Linked DNA regions of Homo sapiens: region 2 is linked to region 1. Evidence: fine-mapped expression QTL. Tissue or cell type: whole blood. Region 1 holds a variant in brackets; the other region holds the start of a gene. All regions are shown on one strand. Distances are between the middles of the regions.

Region 1 (8,336 bases):
CCACTAATGAACATCAAAAATGTAGATAGCTGTGGGTTGGGAAGATATAATCAGGGAGGATAATACAGGGGATTTTTAAGCTCTCAGTAATGTTCTATTTTTTTAACCTTTTTGGTTTATAATTATACTGTAAAATGTACATATACATTTTATATGTTCTTATGTGTGCTTAACAATATAAAAGTAAAATGTTTAAAAAGAAAGCTCCCATGACATACAGTTAACTGAAAAAAAGCACGTTACAAAACATGAACATGTACTATGATGCCATTGTGAAAAAAAATTAAACATTGGTCTATCTAACATTTTAAAAAATAGCTATTTATTTATGCATTTCCTACTCATGGACGTTTAAGCCACTCTAAGTAAAAAATATTGGGAAATACCTTTGTTAGGACATTTTAGTGTACTTGTCTCATTATCTCCTTAGGATACATTGCTAGAAATTGAACTGCCTTCTTTTTTTTTTTTGAGATGAAGTCTTGCTCTGTCGCCCAGGCTGGAGCGCAGTGGTGTGATCTCAGCTCACTGCAACCTCCGCCTCCCAGGTTCAAGTGATTCTCCTTGCCTCAGACTCCCAAGTAGCTGGGATTACAGGCGCCCACCACCACGCTCAGCTAATTTTTTTGTATTTTTAGTAGAGACGGGGTTTCACTATGTTGGCCAGGCTGGTCTCGAACTCCTGACCTCATGAACCACCCGCCTCGGCCTCCCAAAGCGCTGGGATTACAGGCATGAACCATTGTGCCTGGCCGAAATTGAACTGCCTTCTTACTGGGACTTTTAGGCCACATGCCCCTGTATAACAAGACGCAGGCATTACTGATGATTGCACAAAGCTTACCAAAGGATTAAACTATTCAATAGTGTCTAAGACTTCTGTAATGTAATGACAAAGCATCAGAAACAGTGCTTTTCCTTGTGTGAGAAGATTGGCAGGGGACCCGCAGGCAGGGACAGACTTAGGATGTGAGGATGTGCCTGTTCACATTTTCCCCCTTCTAAGGGAAGAGGCTTCCTTTTCTGGAGAATATAAAGAAATAAATATCCTTAGTTGTACCTTTGCAGAGCTGCTTCTCAGTTTGCCTGATCATCTTTGGATAGGACACAGCTTTCTTCCCCTGGAGTCAGGGTTGCTGTTTCTTAACATGCCTATCTTAATTGGCACACCTAAGAGTTTCAACACAGTCACCTTTGTTTACTATTTGGCCCTATTTCTTTTCTTTTGCCACATTAATTTATCTTGAAACTGTCACTTACTTGTGAATCAACTGTCATTAGAGTGTGACATTTGCTAATGGTGATGGCCACTTTTTGGATAGTTACAGGAAAGAAAAGAGAATGAGTAACAGCTTAATGCCTACCACGTGCCAGGCATTTGCCAAGCATTTGACACATACATTCATTAATCCTCTGCAGGATGATATTCTCATCCTTCTATTACTGATGAGGAAACTAAGGCTGAGAAGGCTTGATTACCTTGTGCAAGTTCACAGACCAGTAAGCGTCAGAGCCTTGGTGTCACCTGCCTGTCAATCAGTGCTCTTCCTTCTTCCCACCACAGTGCCACATGCCTACAGGAAGGCAGGCTTGCCTCCACAGGTCTTCATATCCCTACCAGACGGCTCTATTTACCTGCCCATGTAATTGCCTCTCAATCTTACGTTAAGACGAGGTCTCTTACCAAGCAGGCTATTTGGTTAAGAGGAGGACTTCAGGCCGGGCGTGGTGGCTCATGCCTGTAATCCCAGCACTTTGGGAGGCTGAGGTGGGTGGATCACCAGATCAGGAGATCGAGACCATCCTGGCTAACACGGTGAAACCCCGTCTCTACTGAAAATACAAAAAAATTATCCAGGCGTGGTGGCAGGCGCCTGTAGTCCCAGCTACTCGGGAGGCTAAGGCAGGAGAATGGCGTGAACCCGGGAGGCAGAGCTTGCAGTGAGCTGAGATCGCGCCACTGCACTCCAGCCTGGGCAACAAAGGGAGACTCTGTCTCAAAAAAAAAAAAAAAAAAAAAAAAAAAGAGGACTTCAGAGATGGCAGTTATAGCAGTGCTGTGCCATGGAAGGCTATGGAAAAGCTGAAGCTGATCAACTTGATCTCTAGACGCCTTGGCCACTTAAGCCCTGGAAACACTGTGTGACTCGAACATGGAAAACTAGTTTAAGCAATATTGTACTGGACTGTCTGGTCTAAATCAAATATATTCAGTACTTTCTGATAATATCTTCTGTCCCCATTAAACTAATAGAAGTCTATACAAGTATTTGATGGGCAGTAAGTGGCTTTATTGAAGAGGCAAGGGAGAAAAGTCCTAGAAATCAAAAGACAGTTTATATTAACCAGTTTTAAGGCCAGGAGGAAAGAGTTACTCTATTTACAGTAGAGACTCCATCTCCTTTTTAGGTTGGGGTAGAGGGACACTCACGGTGTGTTGATCACCAAGCGGTCCCACTGCCCCTTGATGTCATCTTCAGATGGCTGTTCGGTGATATATAGGCCATCAAACTCCAGCTTCCTGGCGATTTCTTTTTCCCTTTTGAAAACCACCAAAGGCACCTAGGAGTGGGAGGAGGATGGTTACTCAGAGCAGGCTTTGTGATTAAAGCTCCTGCTCCCAGGTATTTGTCACAAATTAACCTTCCAACTTCAGAGCAGCAATCTCCTTATAGTGGAATTCTTAGAGTGCCTAGTTGTGGGATCAAAGCCAAATGAATCTCTTTGGCTAAATACCTACCTACCTCTTTAAAGCTGATCTGATTTGGGTCACCCTTTAAGTTTTCAGTTAGATGGCTAATATTAATACAAACTAGACTCCTTGACCCATGCTAGTGTGCAGGCCACGCCTAGATGAGCCCCAGGGTTGAATGAGTTAGGACTCCTAAGGCTCCTCGGCTGGAGTTGAACCAAGATTTAGAAAGGACAATAAACCATTCTAGAATAGATCGGCCAGCCACAGGAATATGATGAAATGTTCCAACTCCCTTCAATGTACAGGGCCATATTTATCTCATGGCGTTGAAGGTCAGTTAATGAAACATGGTCTCATAGTTAGAATGAGAAGATTCAGTCTTTCTGTATGAAGTTTTCTTCCTGAGATTCTGTCCGTAAAGAGCTCCTTCCAGGTAGTGGCATACTTGTTTCCTACTATCACTCTCTATTCTTTTATAATTGGAACTTTTATTTTAGACTAGATATAGTGGTATGGCTCTAAGGACCTACTGCCAAAGGGGAACACAGAAAGGGATTGGAAAATAATCCACTTGCCCCAACCATCACTAAGTGCACACACACTCCAAACATGGGACAGTTAATGAGGCCAGAGGATACTGCTGAAATCCCAGGAAATGAGAAGTCACAATTGACGCAGCTCCTCTAGCCAGAAAAGCTTAATTCAGACAGAGCTAGGGCGTCTCATCTCATCTCCAGCTGAGATGCCACTGGCTACTTGGCAACATCCTTGAGACCTTTGTCTCCAAACCCATGATATGCATGTACCCCACATCGCTTTTGTCCAAAACAAAAGAACAAAATTCAGACAGTGATTTGTAAAGAGTTACCTCTTGCCCTGTTTTTCTTTAAAACAATGAAATAACACTGATAAAATGAAAAACTCACGATAGGAAGGTGGCAAAGGCTAGTAGCCACTGCACACTGTGAGGAACTGATGATGACTGTTAGTACACAGATGATGTGGGAGGTGAGGCAAAGCTCAGCGACTAATGCCTGCCGTGTTTTGGATGACTCTAGAGAACAGTAGTAATATCAAGTTGTAGAGCGGTGCTCATCTCTGGGATTCCAAGCATTCCCCTTCAGTCTCCTAGAAGTTTGTATACTCTCGTAAACAGAACTTCCACATTCTTTACTTGCTAAATAGTGTTTCTTTTTTGTTTCTCCTGGTCACAGTATAATCTGTACTCCATCTAATAAGCTGAACTCTAGGATCTCAAACTAAGGAGCAGCAGCGAACATGCTTGAGGGTTTACTATGTGTTCTGAGTACATTTACACATACCTCTACATTTAATCCCCCCAGCAACTTTAGCAACAGTACTCATTTTTATGTATGAGAAGATAGAGGACTGGGAGTTTAAGTGGCAGAGCTGTGAGTTCAACCCAGGCAGCTTGGCTCCAGAATTTGCACTTTCATAGTTGCAATAGAGTCCTTAGTGTAGCCCAGGGCATAAGGTCTCTGCAGCACAGTAGCTGGACTTCCTACATGACACAATAGTTCACTGAGGGAAGAAAGGACCACAATATAGGAAAGTATTTCCTGGACTCTTCCTGGGAAGAAGATGGCTTGCTGTACTTAAGGAGACTTCCTACTCAAGAGAAGGAAGAAAAAAATGTAATGAGAAAAGCAGTGAGAAAAACACAATTATGATGTAGCAGAACTAGATCTGGACTTGGGACACCAAAAATTGAATGACAGAAGATTGACATAACTGTAGTGGTTGTGAATATGGCCCCAAGGAACCACGCCTCCTGGAATTCATGCCTTTGTGTAGTGCCTCTCCCCTCTACCATGCAGCAGTGCATCTGGGATGGCCATGTGACTTGCCTTAAACCACAGAATGCAATGGAAATGACACTGTACCAGTTCTGGGCCTAAGACCTAGGAAGGCTTAGCAGCTTCCACCTCCATGCTCTTTTTGGAAA[C/AC]CCAAGCCATCATGCAAGAAGTCTAGCTACCCTACCGGACAGATCATGTGGAAAGGCCACGTGGAGAAGGAGATGCTCTGAATCTCCCTGGAGAGAAAGAGGGAGACAGAGAGAGGCCCAGCTACCCCAGCTGAGCCCATCCTTCCAGTTGTCCCCCTGTGGAGCTGCCAGGCATGGGAATGTGCCATCTTGGCCATTCCAGCCCAGCTGAGCTCGCAGATGGCTGCAAATGTAGCGCCTTTACATAGAACAGAGGAACTGCCCAAATGTGCCAGTCATCTCACAGAATCACAGAGATAAATAGTTGTCATTTTAGACCACTGAGTTTTAGAGTGGTTTGTTATGCAGCAATGGATAACTGAAAACTAACACATCAGTAAGCTTTCTTCTGAGATCTTGAGTGGTTACCACCTAATGAAAAGGTATTTTTATAAAAATTTTGACATCAATTCAAAGATCAGAAGATTCTGTCATGACTAGCTCTCCATGTGACTTTAGCCTGATGACTCTAGTTCTATGAAATTCAACAAGAGGTACCTGAAATGGGACTCCTAGCTCAAGGCTTCTCAAACTTGAAAGTGCGTACAGATTGCCCAGTGATCATGCTAAGTGGTAGATTCTGAGTTAAAGGACTTAGGGGCTGGGCGCAGTGGCTCATGCTTGTAATCCCAGCACTGTGGGAGGCCGAGGCAGATGGATTACCTGAGGTCAGGAGTTCAGGACCAGCCTGGCCAACATAGTGAAACCCTGTCTCTACTAAAAAATACAAAAATTAGCTGGGCATGGTGGCAGGCATCTGTAATCCCAGCTACTCGGGAGGCTGAGACAGGACAATTGCTTGAACCTGGGAGGCGGAGGTTGCAGTGAGCCGAGCTTGCACCACTGCACTCCAGCCTGCGAGACAAGAGCGAAACCCATCTCAAAAACAACAACAACAGAAGAAAACCTATGGTGAGGCCTGAGACTCTGCAGGTCTAGGCAGCTCCCAAGTGATGTGCTGCTGCTGCTCTACGGACCTTACGAAGGCCTTTACGGCTAGCAAAGTCTTAGAGCAAAGGGCTGGCTGGGCTCAAAAAGGACATTTCTTCCTCAAGGAGTGAGATTAGATCCAGAGTGGCAAACAGCTCACCTTCAGGCAGTAGTAGCCCACCACACAGACTAGAGAGATGATGGTATGGATGATGGCCAGGGCACGCAGGGTTGGTGCCATATACCCGGTGCTCTCCTGAAGGACAAAGAATACCATCGCTTCTTCCTCTTCCTCGTCATTAAAGGAATTCCATAGGTTTGCAACATCCTCTGTCTCTTCTTCTAAAGGTTCTTCAGTGACCTGGCTCAAAATACACACTCGCTTATTAAACATCAAAAAGAACCTCAGCCATTGGGCTCTCCCCACATATTTTATATTGTTAGCATGTGCTATACAAATAGTAGTGACTCAACATTACTTGCTGAATGAATGAGGTTTTTAGGTGACTTATTACTAGGAATCACCCAGTATCTCTAATAATTGCAAACAAACTTTTAAAAAGGAGACAAAACCTATCTCTTGAGAAGAAAGCAAAAAAATTAAAATTAGGCAACTTTTACTACATATGCTTATAATCCTTATGCCACAGAAGGGAATCTCTGATCATGCTGTGGCCTGAGAGGAGGCAAAGACACACACACAAGCGTGAAGGATGTGTGTGCCCGCTCCCCCACCCACCACTGCCACCCAGCCAGAGACTCAGTATTTTCCATTCTTTCTGAGATGCCATTTACATTCATGGCTTCAGCCGCTATTCTTATACAGATGACTCTCAAATCTACAACTTTGAGGCTTTGTCCTGTAGCTCCAACTGCTTGCTGGCTTTCTCTTCTTGGATGGCTGTCTGAAGTCACTTCAACCTCAATGTGTTTAAAACCAAGCTTTGCCTCTCTTGGCTATGGACTTCCATTTTTCTTTTATGGGCAACAGAAGGTCATTAGTTTGTCGAGTGGAAAGTTGAGGTGGATAAAACAATGTTTCATACAAATTAGATTGGTGGTTTTAAGTAGAAAGGGAGATAGGCAAGAGATAGAAAAACCAGTTAAAGACTATGTCGAGAATTCAGGACCCTTCATTAATTCACTGCACTAACAATTATTACATGCCTACAGCATGCAAGACCCACTTGCCAATGTTCAAAACCTTCATTTAACTTGAGCAGTCCCCTCTCTTTCCAAATCCTGTTAATTTTTCCTTTATAACGCTTCTAACAAATAGGCCAACTATAATGGCTCTTGGTTACCTTATTCCTTGAAGAAAGAATTTTATTTATTACTCATTTTGAAATACCTTGTTGTTCCTAATACAGGGTCTAGCTCATGGTAGATGCTCAGCAAGTATTTGAAGACTAAGCAACGACTAAAATAAGCATGAACTATTGAAATAGTCCCCTCACTGGCTCTCTTGTCAGTAGTCTCTCCACTGCTAGAAATTGTATTCCTTTTAGAAGCCAATGTCTTAGAAATTTGCTACCTATTAGAATGTTTGCTACAATTAAGAGCACAAATTCTGTCATGATTCTTTTTCTACACATAGCATACTTAGTATACAGCATATTTAGCAAATAACCCCTGAATGAAGTATCACCTTATAAAAAAGCAGGATGAAGTTGATAGCGAAGGCTACAAACAGAGCAAGGAACCTCAGGTTGTAGAAATTCCTGGCCAGGTAATGCTGCAAAGAAAAGGACAGGCAGAAGTAGAAGAGCTTTGGAAGGAAAAGAGAACTTCCTACTTTCACACAGAAGGTCAGTTCTGGTTAGAAGTTCACACTTGACTCGTCCTACTCTTTGATGACCACTCTTCTAGGGTAACCCTGGCATTCTTTTCTTTCTTTTTTTTTGAGATGGAGTCTCGCTCTGTCCCCCAGGCTGGAGTGCAGTGGTGCAATCTCGGCTCACTGCAAGCTCCACCTCCCGGGTTCATGCCATTCTCCTGTCTCAGCCTCCCGAGTAGCTGGGACTACAGGCGCCCGCCAACACACCCGGCTAATTTTTTTGTTTTTTTACTAGAGACGGGGTTTCACTGTGTTAGCCAGGATGGTCTCGATCTCCTGACCTCGTGATCCACCCATCTCGGCCTCCCAAAATGCTGGGATTACAGGCGTGAGCCACCGTGCCCGGCCAACCCTGGCATTCTTAACACAGCCATGGCATGACTGTGTCGTGTCATGAACATGGAACCAAAATGTTGATTTAAAAAAAAATTGCTTAGAATTGGTATAAAGAATCCTGCTCTGGCTTTATTGCTCAGGGAGCCAAAGGCCTAAACACGCCACCAGCAGAGGACTCGAGCCTTGCCTTGAAGTGCTGTGTGACTGCATTTTCGTGATCACTCCACGCAGCAAGCAGTCTATTAGGAAACTGTAAGTGGTCTAGGCTCGCAGAAGACCCTGGCAACTCCCAACCTGGATGTAGCCATTCTGTGGCCTCAGTCCTCATTCCTTTCCAAGTTACAGTTCCAGGAGCCTCTTCTTCTCCCTTGTTGGGAACAGCATTCCCATTCTTGCTGCCATCTTCCCCAGAAAAATCAGCATCCACAGACTGGAGTGGAAGCTGCCTGGGTAACGTTCCCAATCTCTCTGTGGGGAGCCCTCACTAATGGTGCTAGGGAAGGTGTGGTCCTGGCCTTCAGCCACTGTACCTC
Region 2 (8,336 bases), 190 kb before region 1:
AAAGTACCCTTATGACTTATGACCTGGTAAGCTCTTCACTTTCCCTTTTCTCCACCAGAGTACAGGCTGTGGATTCCAGGCTGAAAGAATAGCTCATGCCAGAGTCTCTCCCCCTGTAGCTGGTGAGCACCCTCAGTAGTAGATGGAGCTGTTCAAAACAACATAGTAAATAAAGACATCTTTCTGAGAAACTTATGTGTTTTCCAGTTTGCATTGTTTATATATTAAGCACGAGAAACTAGCTAAACTATAGAAAATCTGCTTGCCTATGAAGAGAAGAATCAGGAAGAGGTACTTTCCCCACAAACTTTATATTTGCAAGAGGACAGTGCATTTTTTTCTAAGTCCTATCATAACATCTACTTTTCGTCAAACAGTGAAAGCCTATGAGATCCATAGTCTTTTTTTTTTTTTTGAGACGGATTCTTGCTCGGTCGCCCAGGCTGGAGTGCAGTGGTGTGATCTCGGCTCACTGCAAGCTCTGCCTCCCAGGTTCACGCCATTCTCCTGCCTCAGCCTCCCAAGTAGCTGGGACTACAGGCGCCCGTCACCATGCCTGGCTAATTTTTTGTATTTTCAGTAGAGACGGGGTTTCACTGTGTTAGCCAGGATGGTCTCAATCTCCTGACCTCGTGATCCACCCACCTCGGCCTCCCAAAGTGCTGGGATTACAGGCGTGAGCCACCGCGCCTGGCCAATCCATAGTCTTAGACTAGGAATTACTGGGTTTCTTGTGATGTTTGAAGGCTCAGATGCTACCTTGACACAGTAGTTGAGGATGCATCAGAATCAACTGGCAGGTTTATTAAGACACAGATTACTGGGCCTCATCCCCAGAGTTTTAATTCTGAATTTGCATTTCTAACAAGTTCCCAGGTGATGCTATTTTTCTGGCCTACATTTTGAGAACAACTACCTTAAGGAATTGGCTACCATTTTATTTAAAAAATAACTTAGGTTGCCGGGCACGGTGGCTGTTGCCTGTAATCCCAGCACTTTGGGAGGCTGAGGCGGATGGATCACCTGAGGTCGGGAGTTTGAGACCAGCCTGACCAACATGGAGAAACCCCGTCTCTACTAAAAATACAAAAAAATTAGCCGGGCGTGGTGGTGCATGCCTGTAATCCTAGCTACTCAGGAAGCTGAGGCAGGAGAATCGCTTGAACCTGGGAGGCAGAGGTTGTGGTGAGCTGAGATTGCGCCATTGTACTCCAGCCTGGGCAACAAGTGCGAAACTCCGTCTCAAAAAAAAAAAAAAAAAAAAACTTAGGTCATGTATGTATTAAAAATATGCAAAAAGTACAGTTTCGTTTCTAAGGAGCTACCTATATAATTCAGCACTTTGGTTTTGATACTCATGAATTCTCATGAGTCCTACCTAAGGGAAAACTGAATTTTTTATTCATGCAATGGCATATGTTTAAAATCAGGACTATCAAGCAAAAGCAATACCAGAAAAGATTCCTTCCCTTTGTTATTTATGCAATCCAAAGGTCTCTGGTTGCTCAAAATGCAGGAGGTACTTGTGTGGTATTTTTAAACCTTAATAACACATTTTTGGACCAGAATCACACGAGGACAGCATATACCGTATCCTTGTTGAAAGAACTTTGGCTAGTTGTGTCCGCTAATTAGGAAGTGCTAGAAGGGGGACCTCAGAATTTTCCTATCCTAAACACTCTTGGTTGAATTGAGAAAAACAAGATACGCCTTGAATGAACAGATGGAGAGTAACATACCCCCGGACTTCTGAGGGCATCTGCAGAATAGACTTACAGGCATGGATTCTGGAATTAGACTGTACTGGTATAAATCCCAGTTCTGTTACTTACTAGCTTGAGCAAATTATTTAACTTTTTTGCAACTCAGTTTTCTTATCTGTAAAATAGGAATAATAATAGTGTTTATTTCATAGGGATATTTTGAAGATTTAATGAGTTAGTACGTGGAAAGTGCTTAGAATAGTATCAGGTGCAAAATAAGTGTTAAAAAAACTTGGCATCATCCACAAACCAATCTCTCTCTAAAATGGCATACCTTTCAAAAGTGTTACTGAGTCTTACACTGACTAGTTGAAAGTATCAAGCATAGTGAATGTGCCCTAATAACACTGGCTTAATCTGCAAGCCACTGATCTTTTCAACCTCATAATTTTGGAGGCTTCTCAAGGGATAGTTATATAGTTCCTTAAAGCCCTATTTCCCACTGGTCTCGTCTCTCACTACATTGGAGATGTACATATTAATCTCATACCAGACATTTGCCCAAATCAGGGTTTCTCAATGTTGGCAAATTTAAGGCTGGATAAATTTTTGGATAAATTACATCGGTAGCTCCTTAGATACTAAAACGTACCTTTTGCACCAATCTATCTGTGCTAGTGGTTCTCATCCAGGGTGATTGCCTCTCAGGGAACATTTGGCAATGTCTGGAGATGTTTTTGGTTGTCTTAATGAGGGGGAGAGGGGTTCATTCTGGCATCTAGTGGGTAGAGGCCAGGGATGCTATTAAATATTCTACAATGCACAGGATAAGCTACCGCCACAAAATGTTACCCAGCCCTAAATTTGCCAACATTGAGAAACTCCGATTTGTGCAAATGTCTAGTTTGAGATTAATGTGTGGATCTTCAACTTGGTGAGAGGCCAGACCAGTGATATGCTGGTAGATATTTAACCATATTCTTCCATGCCCCTTCCCCACTGCTATGGTCTAAATGTTCATCTCCCTCAAAATTCATGTTGAAATCTTTTTTTTTTTTTTAGACAGTCTCCTTCTGTTGCCCATGTACAATCACAGCTCACTACAGCCTCAACCTCCTGGGCTCAAATGATTCTCTATCTTAGCCTCCCAAGTAGTGGGACTATAGGCATATACCACCATGCCCAGCTAATTTTTGTAGAAATGGGGTTTCACCATGTTGCCCAGGCTGATCTTGAACTCATGTCTCAGGCAATCCACCCGCCACAGCCTCCCAAAATGCTGGGATTACAGGCACGAACCACACACCTGGCCTGTAACTGTGTAATCTTGGAAGTTACTTAACATCTGTTTTAGATTCCTGATCTGTAAAATGGAGACAACACTAGCTTACCTCGTAGGCCAGCTATTAGTCCCAAATGAAGTGATATGAGAAGTATGTAGAATAGTGTTTGGTGCATATAAGTGCTCTACAAGTGTTACTATTTTTAAGACTGTTTCTCTGGAGTTGACAATCCTTCAATAGTTCCCCCTGTCTGGAAGGCGCCCCTACTCCCATTTACCAACCAGGCAAACTCCTACTCAACCATTAGGCTTTAGCTCAGGGGTCTATTTCTCATGAAGCCTTGGGTAACCCGTTTAAATATAATTTAACTTTTCTTCTTTGGACCTTGATCTTGAATCTCTCACTGCACTCAGCAACACGGTACTGTAATCATCTATTCACACGACTAGATTATCTTCCTTGTGGGCAGTGAGCTACTTGAGGGCAGGGGCAAGGTTTTTTTTTTGTTTTTGTTTTTAATTTCAGGACATAGCACTGTGCCTGATGCAGAGTAGGCAATTAGAAGCAATGAAAAGTATTAACTATGTATGGATATAGGAAAGAACCAGAAAGTACTGAGGGGGAAGAAAACACTTATTCTGCTAGGCTGACATTTTAGCCCTTGCTTTCATTATTTTCAGGTGGTTTCAGTCCCAAGTTAAAAACTGCTTTCATGCATCTGTGTAACCAACTGTTCCCCTTCCTGTTTTCTCCTTGGTTGAAAGAAGGGACTGGAGTGAGACCGCCTTAGAATGCCAGTTCCACCACTACCTAGTTATTCACTTTAGTCAAGTTTTTTTTAACCTTTCCAAGGCTGTTACCTCACTGCAGAATAAGGATGACAGTCATCCCTACCTCATAGAGCTGTTATGAGAATGAAATACTCATGTGCTCAATAAATGTCAGCTGTAGTAGTCATTTCTACAGAAATTCTGCTGAGGACTTTGACGCCCTTTCTAGCCATCTCCCAGTTTCGCACTGTTCTCTCTCCCACGTGCTGCAGTCCACCTCTCACCAGACACAAACTCTTGTCTTTACATCCACACCTCCTGAACCCTGACTTCGGTATAGTTTTAAAATGATACACATTCGTTGCTGAAAATTAGATTAAACGGAGGAAAAAAAATTAACTCACTTCAAATCTCAGCAGTTAACCACTAACATTTTAGTATGTATTTGTTTAGACCTTTTCTTATGCAAATACATACGTTTAAACTTTTTTTTTCCGAGAGTTCACATCATACAAATTTTATTTTATGACTCGTCCTTGCACTTAGCACGGTCTCTCCCCCAACCTATCTCTGATGCCTTGAGAATCCCCCCGCCCCGCTGCAGACCCCCACCACTTCCAGCTCCCAGCGGTCCGGCCTTCCCGCGGTCCCGGTTCCGGCCCCACCTGCGGGACGCCGGCCGCCCCGCCCCGCCCCGCTCCGCTGCGGCCGGCCTCGATCCCTAGCCCCGCACCCCGCGCCTCGCTGCTACCGGGCGCCTTTCGCTCGCGGCTCCTCCGTGCGGCCCGCTTCCGGTGGGGCCAGGGCGTCTCCGCCGCAGCTCGGCTCCCGCGCGCTCAGCACCGCCAGCGGCGGCCAGATGCAGGCGGAGCGAGGAGCTCGGGGAGGCCGTGGGCGGCGGCCAGGCCGCGGCCGGCCTGGCGGAGATCGCCACAGCGAGCGGCCCGGAGCCGCAGCGGCGGTAGCCAGAGGCGGCGGCGGAGGCGGCGGCGGGGACGGAGGCGGACGCCGGGGCCGTGGCCGTGGCCGGGGCTTCCGCGGCGCTCGCGGAGGCCGAGGAGGAGGAGGCGCCCCGCGAGGCAGCCGCCGGGAGCCGGGAGGCTGGGGCGCAGGGGCCAGCGCGCCGGTAAGAGGCGACGGCTGGTGGGGCTGGGACCGCGTGTAACTGGGGCAAGTGGGGCCGAGGCCGCCAGTCAAGAGCCGCAAGAGAGCGTGCCAGGCGCGCGCCAGACGGGCGGCGGCGCCGGCGCCTGCGCGGGACGGGCGGATGGTGGCGCGGGGGCGCGCCTGGTGGCGGGGGCGCGCCTGGGTATGCGCTTGGCCCTCGTGGCCTCCTGGCCGGGCTGGCGCGAGACAGTGGGGGTAGGAGGGCTTCCCAGCCTGCCCCAGGGTCCGGGTTAGGAACCCAGAGGCCAAGGCCGTGTGTCAGGGCTGCAAGTCTCGGCGGCCCGTGGGCCGGCTGGGCTGTCTGTACGAGTACCACTATGGGACGGAGGCGCGGCCACGACGTGGTCCCTCGGCAGCCTTTACGGGCACGCTCCTGTTATTAGGAGGGAAAGGATTTTTTGGTCTGTTTTGTTAACTGTCTGTGCAATGCCTAGTACACAGTAGGCGCATAATAAAAAGTTTGTTGAGTGAAAGAATGACCCCTACGACTGGACTCTAGTATTTGGGGGCGGGACCAGATGCATAGTTCTTTGTAATAGCGTAGTTCTCTTTTATTATGCCTGTATGTGTAGAAATCAGCGAGCACTGGGCTTTGTCGTTTTGAATTTTCAATTTATAAATGAGCAGTCAAGTTCTGAGTTTTAATAGCAATATCATCAGTCTTATTGACACATTCATAGAAGGAAGTTTTTGGAGATTGGAGCAGGGGATGATATATATGGGGGCAAAGCTAACCATATCTCAGCTAAAGGAGTTAGAGGACTGTCTTTTTATGAGTTGTTCTGTTACCTTAACATCTGTAGGACAAGACCATCTTTATATTCTGCATTCTTATGCACACTGATTTAAAAAATTCTTTTTTGCATGAGGCAAAATTTGCTCTTACTGAAGTATTTACAATATCTTGAGGGCATAGCAGATAAGATATCCCTAAAGAGAGTAGTTGTATACAGCAATACAGAGCTGGAAAAAAAAGTATAAAACTTAAATTTAAATGTAACAAACTTAAATCTTGTTAGGATTAAGATAGGTAATAGGCAAAACTTGAATGAGATATAAAAACATTTTTAGGGTCAGTTTACCTCGTGTAAACTGACAGAAACTAAGGTAAATGACAGAAACTAAGACCAACCTAGTGCCCACTATATATCACATTTTGTTCTTATAACTCTATTATATATATATAATATATATGTAATGTAGAATTATGTAATATAATAGTATGTAATTATATATTAACTACAATGTTATATATTATTTATATATCCATATATAGAGAGTAATCTTTATTTTTACAGGTTAACTGACTTGCCTAAGCTTTCACAGCTAGTGGCAGAGCTGGGATTTATATCAAGCTGCCCTTGAGTCAACAGTATTTTATCTCTTACTTTTTCGTGAACCAGTTACCACTTTATTGAGAACAAAGTAGATATTCCTTAGCTGCAGGGATCGTGCTTTAAGAGTAATTGTAGTAATGGTACATTTGGTGTTAACTATGGTGTCTGGCGCACAGGACTTTACTAATAAGTGTCTTTAAGTTGAATTGAGTGAGTGAAGGTGCTTCTGTTTTGTTAATCTCTGTTGAATTAAATTGGGTGAAATGATGGTATATATTTTTTTTTTTTTTTTGAGACGGAGTTTTACTCTTGTTGCCCAGGCTGGAGTGCAATGGCATGATCTTGGCTTGCTGCAACCTCCGCCTCCCGGGTTCAAGTGATTCTCCTGCCTCAGCCTCCCAAGTAGCTGGGATTACAGGCATGAGCCACCTTGCCCGGCTAATTTTGTATTTTTAATAGAGATGGGGTTTCACCATGTTGGTCAGGCTGGTCTCGAACTCCTGACCTCAGGTGATCCACCCGCCTCGGCCTCCCAAGGTGCTGGGATATGGATTACAGGTGTGACCCACTGCGCCTGGTCATGATGGTATATCATTAAAAGAAAGAATAATACAAGACTTTAAAAAATTTAAGATAGTATTGTAACACATTCTGTTAAAATTTTAGGCTTTTTCTTTTGTCGAGTTGGTCTTATCCCTTCATCATCATGTTTTCAGCCAAAGCTGGAGGGAGGGATGTTGGGCAGATTGTTCCTTAATTTTGGTTTGGATTGGTCATCTCTAAGTTCCTTCCATTTCTCAGATTCTGAAGTACTGTTTGTATTTAGTCTTGCTAGGACACCATTTTTGGTGCTTAACCATTACATGAGACAAGATTGATTGACTTTCCTGAAGCCTTCTTGTTCTCATATCCCATGGTGCATTTGTGCCCCAAGGAGAGAGTAACCGAAATGATCAAAGGAAAAAAAAATCATAATAGACTCCTAGCCATGTAAAGACCAGTTGTCCACCTTCAGAAACCAATTTTGTGTACACCTTTGCTTTCTATTTTGGACCACTGCATACAAATGGAAAACAAAATCAATCTAACCAACTTCTACATAGCTATGTAATACTCCAGGGTAACTTAGTTGAGTACTAAGTTGAGTACATCTCTTAGTCTCTTGCTCTTAAATCATTCCTTCTGTAAATGGTCTGAGCTCTAAGCTTACTGATTATGGGTGAGCATAATTATCTTCACGGAATACTCACTAGAAGCATTATTGTACTAGATACAATCATTAACTTTAAAAAAAAAACACAAAACTGGCTGGGTGTGGTGGCTCGCGCTTGTAATCCCAGCACTTTGGGAGGCTGAGGTGGGTGGGTCACTTGAGTCTGGGAGTTCGAGACCAGACTGGGCAACATAACGAGACCCCCTCTCTATAAAAAAAATACAAAACTGCCGAGCATGGCGGGGTGCATCTGTAGTCCCTGCTACAAGGGAGGCTGAAGCAGCCGGATTGTTTTGAGCCCCGGAGGTGGAGGCTGCAGTGAGCTGTGATCCTGCCACTGCACTCCAGCCTGGGCAATAGAGTGAGACTCTGTCTCAAATAACTAACTTACTAACTAAATGAATAAATAATCCCCCTATCACTGCCCCCAATACTAGGATTGTTTAGTATTTATCTTTGTGATGGGCTGTTAGCAGAGAGGAAGACAAGGCCAGCTGGTAGTCTTTGGAATTTTTTTTCTTTTTTCCTTCCTCTAGTAATAACAGTAATTCACATTTGTCGAGTACTTAATATAAGATGAGACAGCTGAGGCACCGTTAAATAACTCACAGTTAGGAGAGGTGAAATAACTTTTTAATATCACTCAACCAGAAAATTGCTGAGCCTGGATTCCACCCCAGCATTTTCACTCCAGAGCCTGTTCTTTCGACTGCTGCTCTAAACTGCTCCTGGAATGACTTTGAGATTTGAAAAAGGGGTGTGTGGAGGACTGTTGAGTGATTCTTTCACATGCCTGATTATTTTTTTAACTGATATGTTAGTATGGTTATAAGGTTTTAAGGTAACATTGGTACCATCTTCAG

Evidence for each region. PIP is the estimated chance that this variant, and not a neighbour inherited with it, causes the effect.
Region 2: it holds the start of AVEN, and the variant in region 1 is the best candidate, but not a certain one, in a credible set for the expression of AVEN in whole blood (INTERVAL, PIP 0.68).

The regions. Positions count from the first base shown.
Region 1 is chr15:33,842,517-33,850,852 of GRCh38, reverse strand. RYR3 (ryanodine receptor 3) reads right to left here. Exons shown (of 104, transcript NM_001036.6): 92 at 7,279-7,365; 93 at 5,791-5,991; 94 at 2,432-2,562. Among named protein-coding and RNA genes, the nearest start is that of CHRM5, 120 kb to the left of the region's middle. The variant C/AC (reference allele first, on the strand shown) is at 4,662.
Region 2 is chr15:34,035,326-34,043,661 of GRCh38, reverse strand. AVEN (apoptosis and caspase activation inhibitor) reads left to right here and starts at 4,458. Exons shown (of 6, transcript NM_020371.3): 1 at 4,458-4,882. The coding sequence starts at 4,616. The region is part of intron 1 of CHRM5 (cholinergic receptor muscarinic 5); the gene reads right to left. RefSeq lists silencers at 4,366-4,535, 4,716-4,925, 5,016-5,075, 5,426-5,485.